Regions from separate parts of the Homo sapiens genome. Here region 1 is linked to region 2. Evidence: fine-mapped expression QTL. Tissue or cell type: whole blood. Region 2 holds a variant in brackets; the other region holds the start of a gene. All regions are shown on one strand. Distances are between the middles of the regions. Region 1 holds the start of PCMTD2 (protein-L-isoaspartate (D-aspartate) O-methyltransferase domain containing 2). Region 2 overlaps MYT1 (myelin transcription factor 1).

The links. PIP is the estimated chance that this variant, and not a neighbour inherited with it, causes the effect.
Region 1: it holds the start of PCMTD2, and the variant in region 2 is fine-mapped to the expression of PCMTD2 in whole blood (TOPMed, PIP 0.99).

Annotation. Positions count from the first base shown.
Region 1 is chr20:64,253,549-64,257,937 of GRCh38, reverse strand. It overlaps PCMTD2 (protein-L-isoaspartate (D-aspartate) O-methyltransferase domain containing 2), which reads right to left and starts at 2,190. Exons shown (of 6, transcript NM_018257.3): 1 at 2,068-2,190.
Region 2 is chr20:64,227,455-64,231,843 of GRCh38, reverse strand. It overlaps MYT1 (myelin transcription factor 1), which reads right to left. Exons shown (of 23, transcript NM_004535.3): 17 at 4,367-4,389; 18 at 3,873-3,956. Among named protein-coding and RNA genes, the nearest start is that of PCMTD2, 26 kb to the left of the region's middle. The variant G/A (reference allele first, on the strand shown) is at 2,692.

The DNA of each region.
Region 1 (4,389 bases), 26 kb before region 2:
CCTGCCAGTCATGGCCTCATTTACACTTCACAACATTAAGAAGCAAATTGGAGCTGGCCGGTTAATTTGTTCATGATCACATAGCCAGTTTGTGAGGAGGGGGCTGCATTCAAACCCAGGACTGTATGGCAAAAGGCCTGTGTTTTTAATACCACACCAGTGCAGCTTTTAAAAATACTCAAGACAGCAACGTTCTTTACCACACAACACACCGGTAACCTTTTGACGATGGGGTAACCCTATCTATACCTATTGCCACTGGTAGGATCCATGTGAATAGCTGTGGGGTCTGATATTTATTACCATCTTTGTCTGGTAATCTAACACTCCCTCGCACTGAAAACCATCGATATGATCAGTCATGATGTCACCAAAAACACCGACAACAAAGCTCTTCGCCAAACCAAATCCTATCATTTTCACCCAGATTCTACAATCTGGTCAAATCCAATTTTTCAAAGTAAAAGTGTAGAATCATTTTTAGAACGCTGCACTCGATGATACTGTGCACATTGTCTGCTGTAATTAATCCTTAATATAATTCACTACTCTGTGGTAACTAGCAACAGTCCATAACAACCTGGCTGCTCCTTACAATGCGAACTGCCAGGGCACATGAAGAACACTTGCTGAGTGGCGACAGGCATGGGAAGGTCTCAGAACTGACACCTGAGTTGTGATTGTGGCTGTGTCAACACAAGCATGAAGCTATGGTAGTGGGGTTTTGGGAGGCGACATACGGAAGATCACATTCCAACTTGGATGTCACTTCTTTAGGGTAATATGGACAAAGTAATTCATTGTGGAAGATGAGTGGGGAAAAGGACCCAAAGCCACATCTCCTTTGGGCAGAATGATCAAACAAACACACAAACAGATTTCTCACCTTGAAAACCAGAACTCTTACAAGCAATGCAAAGGGACTTTTTTCAAATACAGATGGTCTCCGACTTCGGATGGTTCGACTTCAGGTTTAACGATGTGTTTACTGGGATGCGACCCCACCGTAAGCCGGGGAGCACCTATACTTGAAAGGCTGTCACATGTACACTATTAATGGGCCTAACAAAAGCCAGACCAGTGGTACATGTTGGAGACAATGCCTACTAAATACACAGAGAAGCTTTCTAACAAATGAAGTTGCAATGAATGAAAGGAGCTCTTGATAAGCCCAGCCAAGTTCCACTGGAGGTACGAGCTGGGGTGGCGCAGGGAGCAAGGCCCTGGATCGGTCACCTCTGAGGTCTCCTCTCATCACCTGAGTGTAGGGCTCTATTTCCCCCAAGCGTGGCCACAACAATTTCTGAGTTGCTTATAGGCACCTCAACTTCACTCATTCTTGAATGACAGTCTATCAAACGCCCAGATAGGAGCTGTTTAGCCATTCCCTTGAGAAGAAAAATGAAAACTATTCTAGTCACACGAGTAAAGAGGGGGTGGATAAAGAGGGCGTGGATATTTAGGTGACTTATTTGAGGTGCAACGCTGGAGCAAACATTCATTTAGGAGACACGTCCCTCTCACAAAAACAAAACAAAGGCCCGAAGCTCAGGCAAGTTCTCCTTCCTCCAACTAACAAAGATCTCTTTCCATGCGTGAATTGAAGTCCCAGTGCTCTGCTCCAATTCTTACTATCTCCAAGGCACGGGGCGGGGGGGCGCAATTATTTTTTTAAAAAATCCTGTCATCTTCTGAAAGGGTCCAAGGCAGACTTTGTTCTAAACCTTAGCTCTTGGCTTGCCTTGGAACTGCAAACGTTTCCCACTTGGGAAGTCAAAGACAAGCTGCAGGTCTGGACTAACCAGACCCAAGAGTGTGAGTGAGCAACGGGCACCGGGAGAGACCGACGGGAAACCGCGAGCGCTCGGAGAGAGAAACGCGGGACGCCCTGGAGGCCGCTGGGGGGAGGTGAGGGTGCCCGAGGTGGGGAGGAGCGACGCCCCCAGAGGAGAGCTCCGGGCGCAGGGGTGCCGGGGGTGGGGAAGGAGGAGGGAAGGGGCCGAGGGGACACACCACCCGCTCGCCGCAGGCCGGACCGAGGGGCGGCGGCGGCGGCGGCGGCTCTACCTCCAGGCTCGGCCGGCCGACGGGTTCGGACCGCCTGGGCTGCCACCTGCAGCTCCTCGGGCGCGTCCCTCGTGTGTCCGCGGCCGAGCAGCGCCGCTCCAACCTCGGCCGCCGTAAACATCCGCCGCCGCCGCCGCCGCCGCCGCCTCTGCGCCTGCGCACAACGGCCTGACTGCGCATGCGCCGCGGGCCTGGCACTTAAAGGGGTGATGGCGGCGCAGGGCGGGCCCCACTCCCCTGGGCTGCCTGCGTCCGCCCGCCCCGCTGAGAGCTCGCTGAGCCCTAGGCCGGGTCCGAGTCTCGCGGGCGCGCCGTCCGCGCAGTGCTCAGCCAGGACGGACCCCGCACGGGCTGCCTCAGAAGCCCTCCCTAAGGGTCACCTGAGACGCCTTTGCTGACCCACGGCTGGGGGCGTTCCGCATCTCCAGGGTGCCCTGCGGCTGCTGACTCGGGGCCGGCGCTGCCCTCGGGCGGCCTCCCAGCACCAAGCACAGCCGCCCTGGGACCCCCGCCCTGCCACGCGGACGGCCACCCGGCCCTGGGGCCCTCCTACCCAGCCGGCTTTGTGAAATCAGCTGTGAAAGGAAGATATCCTGGGCCCCCAAGATCACTAAGGAAAACTCCAGCAGGAAACTGCTTAGGGCAGGCCTGCTTCCCATTCCATTCAAAGTCACTCCTCTGCTCACTTAGATAGATACATATCTGATTTGCCTCCTTTGAAAAGGCAAATGAGAAACTCAAAAGAATTTAACCGTTGGTGTCTCACCTATCTGTGGCCTGGACGCTCCCTCCCCGCTTGGAGTCTTCCTGCCTTTGCTTCAAGTTGTCCCGTCTTTCCAGACCGAACCGATGTGCTTCTTACATGTATCGATGGATGTATCCTGTCTCCCTAAATGTATAAAACCAAGCTGTGCCCCGACCACCTTGGGCACATGTCAGGACTTCCTGAGGCTGTGTCACGGGCGCGTCCTCACCCTTGGCAAAATAAACTTTGTAAATTAACTGAGACCTGTCTCCCATTTTCTGGGTTCACACAGCCCATTGCCCAAACTTCGCGTGGGGCTTTGCAGATAGGCTGTAGCTGCAGAACCCTTTCTTCAAGCACAGCCATGCAAGCCGCCTCATATGTGCAAGTGCCAGCGTCGCTGGGGCGGACGAGTGGGCCTGGGTCTCCGGTTCCCGCCTCCCTCCTAACTCGGCATTCCTCCCCAGACCCTGGAGCTCCACTTAGGAGCAGAGTTTGAAAACCAAAGGCCGGTGCCTTCACCACGTTATGTGGTCCCAGGGAGACCTCACTTCTCTTGTTGATCCATGGTCCTGGATCCACGGACCTGAGGTGGCCCACCACCTCATGACCTTCATGGGGCTCTCAGTGTCCTTCCACCTGAGAGCTTGTGGTTATTTGTGACTGTTTCAAATTACAGAAGCCCTGGAGTCATCCTTGACTCTCTTCCTACTGCCAGGGGACACGTCCTCCATACATCCCTCCTTGCCCTGTCCCAGCTCCCCTCACCTCTCCCCACCCCTCCCACCATTCCCCTGGGCTCTGGCGAGTGGTCCTCCTAAAACAGGTGATCACATCACTGCTGTCTTCAGACACTCCCTTTGTTCCTGGACCCAACTGAGGGTCGGGCTACTACTTCTCCTGGCCCAATAACAAGATGCAAATGAGCTGGAGAGTAAGAGAGGTTTTATTTCTGTAACCGGTTACAAGGAGAAGGCCTGGAAATTATCACCATACCAACTCAAAATTACAAAGTTTTCCAAAGCTCGTATACCTTCTAAGCTGTATGTCTACATGTAAGTGTGCATTCATCTACAGACATAAGTGATTAACTTCTTTTAATCTATGACTAAGGTTGAGTCCTGAAGACCCTCTTCTGGAGCCTCAGTAAGTTTACTTAATCTAAATGGGTCTAGGTGCTGGGGTGATTACCCTTATCTTGTCTCCTGCTAAATCATAATGATATGGGGAATTCCTTTAGACCCCCATAAACTTGTTTGTGGAGGCCTGGGGAGTTTCTTCAGATCCCTAATACAACTTGTTTAATCCTAAAAAGGGTCCTGTTAAGAGTTCCTTCGTTATCTTGTCATGCTTCAAGGCCCAGGAAGAGCCTAGGCAAAACTCTTGGTGGGCTCTTTGTTACATTCCAACCTTTGTATAAGGGCATTGGCTCAATCAGCTTTTAATGTTTAACCTGGCTACTCAGTCCGTGCTGGGACAGCTGTAATGGAGGCCTGCGTTAGTGAGACCCGGCCTGCCACAACTTCAGACTCTTGCTTGGTTTTCCAAGGTGTCTCCACCATTCCCCTCCACATCAG
Region 2 (4,389 bases):
AGCCTTGCTGCTGGAGTCACTTGTGTGTCACTCAGCAATGTGGAGCCATGTTGTCAGCTGAGACCACCTAGAGGCCACTCCCTGGGAGCTTGCATCAAGCATAGGCCTGGGGGCCTATGGATCACAAAAGAATGACAAGGTCCCCTAAGCAGGGGAGCTCAGGGACAGCAGAGGCCTGTCACCCCACAGCCTCCCAGACTGAGGCCAGTGCAATCAGGGGGCAATGCCCATAGATGTTGCAGCTTTGCCACCACTGAGATCTATGTTCTAGAAGGAAGAACGCAGACCTCATGTGGGGGAGACTCGCTACCCATAATCACTCGTGCCTGAGGCTGGCCTTAAATGGTGTTTTCCTTTCCTTCGTTCTGGGTGTTCCAGGAGAGGGATAGAGGCCCTTATGAAAATAACATAAATTCAGATTGGCAAATGCCTTGGGCTCAGTGTGGGTCAGAGACAAACAGGACAGCGCAGAGGGCCCAGGCCCATGACCTCTCTGAGTGTCTGTCCCCACTGCCTCAGGGAAGGACCTGGACCAGGACTTGGGGAGCTGAGGGACCACGTCATCCAGGAACCCACGCCAAACCCAGGACAAGATCTTCAATCTGCAAGGCTCATTCTTATCTCTTCATAAATGAAACTCATCCAAATTACCGTTTGTCACACACTCCCTGTGTGCTGATTACCTGGCAACACAAGACCCCGAGAGGTCACCATGGCTCCATTTACGAGGAGATTCATGGGCATACAGGGAAGTCACTGTCAGCGCAGGAAGCGCTCGGGAGGACGGTAGCAGGGGGCGGGGGCGGGGGCAGAGGCTCCCGCCGTAGGGGTGAGAGGCGGCTCAGGGCTGCGCTGCCCAGTGGAAGGTCAACAAGGCCTGGACAGGGAGGGCAGCGTCCGGCTCCTTGCCCCCACACTCTGGCCTCGTCTCTGAAGCTGCCGTTTCAGACCCTTCCCAGCCAACTCGGCCAGGACCCTGCTTTCTCTCTCTCCACAGGCCCCTCTCTTGGTTCTTTTCCCTTTGTTACTCATCCCACCCACCTGGCCCTCAGAAACTTTTAGGACATTCCCTGAGCCAGTCCGAGGTCACCTCATCCCCGTCCAGAGCAGAGACACTGCCAGGGGCCCCTATGGGAGCTTTGGGAAGTTCACATTCAATGTCCAGCCCCCCTCTGATGGGGATGGCCCAGCCATGGGACCCTGGGGGACACCTGCACCAGGCACAGACTGGCTGGGAAGAGGCTCTGTGGCCAAATGGGGGGTGGCTGGCTCTTCAGCTACTCTACACAGTCGAATCTGAATTATTATTAGTAGTAGTAGTAGTATTTTTGAGATGGAGTCTCGCTCTTGTTGCCCAGGCCGGAGTGCAGTGGCACAATCTTGGCTCACTGCAACCTCCGCCTCCCGGCTTCAAGCGATTCTCCTGCCTCAGCCTCCCGAGTAGCTGGGATTACAGGCGCCCGCCACCACGCCCGGCTGATTTTTGTATTTTTAGTAGAGATGAGGTTTCACCATGTTGGCCGGGCTGGTCTCGAACTCCTGACCTCAGGTGATCCACCCGCCTCAGCCTCCTAAAGTGCTGGGATTACAGGCATGAGCCACAGTGCCCGGCCCAAATCTGAGTTATTTTCACTCCCTTTCTTGCAAAACACTACTCCCCTTCATCAAGGGAAACTGTTTTTGTTCCCTTGAATCGCATACATGGAGAGGATTTCAGATTTCAGGTATGTTCTCTTTCTCACAAAACCTGGTGTGGAGACTTTCAAGCTGTCAGGGACATCATGTTGAGAGGTGCTGGGGCGGTGGGGGCAGGCACTGAGCTGGTGAGGCCTCTGTGCTTCTTGGGTGAGCTAGTGTTTCCTATCACGTGTTGGGGGGCAGAAGCCGTGTGTGCCAGTGACATGAGAAACATGGCCAGGACCAGAAGTCCCCTCCAGGGACAGTGGGCAGGGCAAGGGGAGCATTCACCTCTTGACTCCCATGCTGGAACCTCCGCAAGACTTTTATGACCAGTTATAAAGCTGTGGCAAAGGGATTTACCACCAAGCGCCTGATGTGACTTAATTTTAAATAGCGCAGGCAGGAGATATCATAAAAAGGACTCCTGTTCCACCAGGCTCCCCAAATCACAGCTCATGCATGCTGACGAAATCCCATCCCTCAGCATGACCTGACACATCCATTCCAGTTTCTGCTTTGATATGCATCTGTTTAAATATGCTAGGCAATTACAAGTGCAGTTAAAGTTTATGGCTGGGAAGGAACCCTGTAAAACGGAGGGTTCAGTAGTCAGGTTCCCTCTGCCATGGAGCCTCTAGGACCTTCCTCTATCCTGCAAATGCTGAAGTGTTTCTGAAAGTCACAGTCTCCACTCGGCTGCAGAACTCTTGTTTTTTTTTAAAGCTCAGTTGACAGCACATTAGAAAGGAAAACCATTTTTCCTGGTTAATTTGAAAAATGCTGATCTTGATTTTAATCATTTGCAAATGCAGCACGATTCACTTATAATATCCCTGCCAGCAGGATCCTTGCCAAATCCATAAAGGTGTTGCACTTATATGATCATAGGCAAATTCCTGGATTCTCAGGGGCAAAATGCTTTTTATCCACCTCAGCATTTAGTGTGCGACCTTCATAGTACTAACAACCAAAATTTTGCATTGTTAATTTAGCATTCATTACAGTTTTATT[G/A]TAAAAATTAAATAAATAAACAAGCCACAGCCTATTACACCAAACAGCTGGTGGGCCCATCCCCGTCTGAAGGATGTGATGTTGGTCAATTAGGCTCCTCCAGTGTGGCCGGGTGTTTGGGCACAGCTGGAGCAAACTACCAGGAGGAGCAACCCAATCTCAGGCCAAGTTGCCCCTCCCCGGGCGTGAGGTCTGGCTGCTCTTGGCCCAGCAGGTAACACAACGAGGGCAACCTGCTTCCTGCGGGCATAGTAGGGCCCCGTCCCGACCGAGCCGGCCCCTAACCCTGGGCAACAAGGTGTCCAGAGCCATCATTTCCACTCTGCTCACCTGCTGGGGAACCCACTGCCCATTTTGCCAGATGTCAGCTCTGAAAGTACCTCGGTCCTGGGCAAAATGGCCAGTGGGTCACCTGGTCTGAGTCTGTAGCAAAGCATTCCCCCCACCTAAAAGTGGGCAGTGCAGGGGACCCGTTCCCTATTGGGAGAATAAGCTTGTAAGGACACAAACCCCCACCAAGTAGGATAACACACAGAGTCAGGGTTCACCTATAAGCCCCACAAAGACACACGAGCCCCCACCCTGCCCCAGTGAGAAGAGCAATAGAGGAGAATCTTTTCTCCTCAAGGACTTGGGTCACTTAAGGCCCAAGATGTCCTCTTTCCTTCACCCAACAGTGTCTGGCTCCCAGTTTAGATCCTCCTGGCTCTCTCAATCTACCAGCTCTCTGCACAGGTGTGTGGGTGGATGGACACATGGGATTTGGAGCTTCAACATTGTTCTAACCACCTTCTCCTCCTTGACTCCTGCATCTCACCTTTCCTGCCAGACAAATTCTGCAGGTTGCAAGGCCCTGGGGCCCACTCCCAGGTGGCCCTAAGACATAGGTAGAAGGGTGCTCTGCCTCTCCCAGCCCCGTCAAATACTCCAGACCTGAAAAGCCCAGAAAATCTGGCACCCATGCCCTCCACGCGACATCCAGGGCTCCTATCTTCACAGGTATCAACGTGTAGCGTATGAGAGCTTCCATAAAAATGAAAGAAACGAAAGTTGGCGTTGGTCAGTTAGGTGACCCGTTGTATTAATGAAAAGGGAATCTAGTAGGAGTTTTTTTACATTATAAAACACACGAAAATCTCAATTCCGCAATGCAATGAAAGAGCCAGCATGGCCCAACGTACTTCATCAGCTCGGGGTCCTCCTTGTCGTCCTTGGTGGGTGCCACCTTGACTCCACTTTTCTTTGCACGAGGGCAGCCGGACAAGCTGATTTCGAAAGAGGAAAAAAGGCCACCTTAGTGCTGGAACCGCAGCTTCTCACACCCGTTCATCTCACCCTCTCCCCTCAAGCTCTGTGACCCCAGGGTGGGGTGGGAGGGAGTGAGGGCAACCGATGGGTCAGTTGTAAGAAGCAGAATCCACAGACACAGCCTTCACACGAGGCAGCAGGGTCGGGAAGGAGAAGCATTACCACGAGCCCCTAGCCCTGACCCCTTGTCTTTTTATCTTACTGCAGAGGACAACTTAATCAGGTTCTGGAAATGGCAACAATTCAGATTAAAGAGATGGGAATGGACTCTAGCTGTCAGCAACATTAGTGTCTTCTAATCTTCATATAAGGAAGAGACTCCCTGCCCACCCCTGGGGCCCAGGACCTGAGGGTGTGGCAGGCTCACCTCCGGTGTGAAGCGTAGTTCCC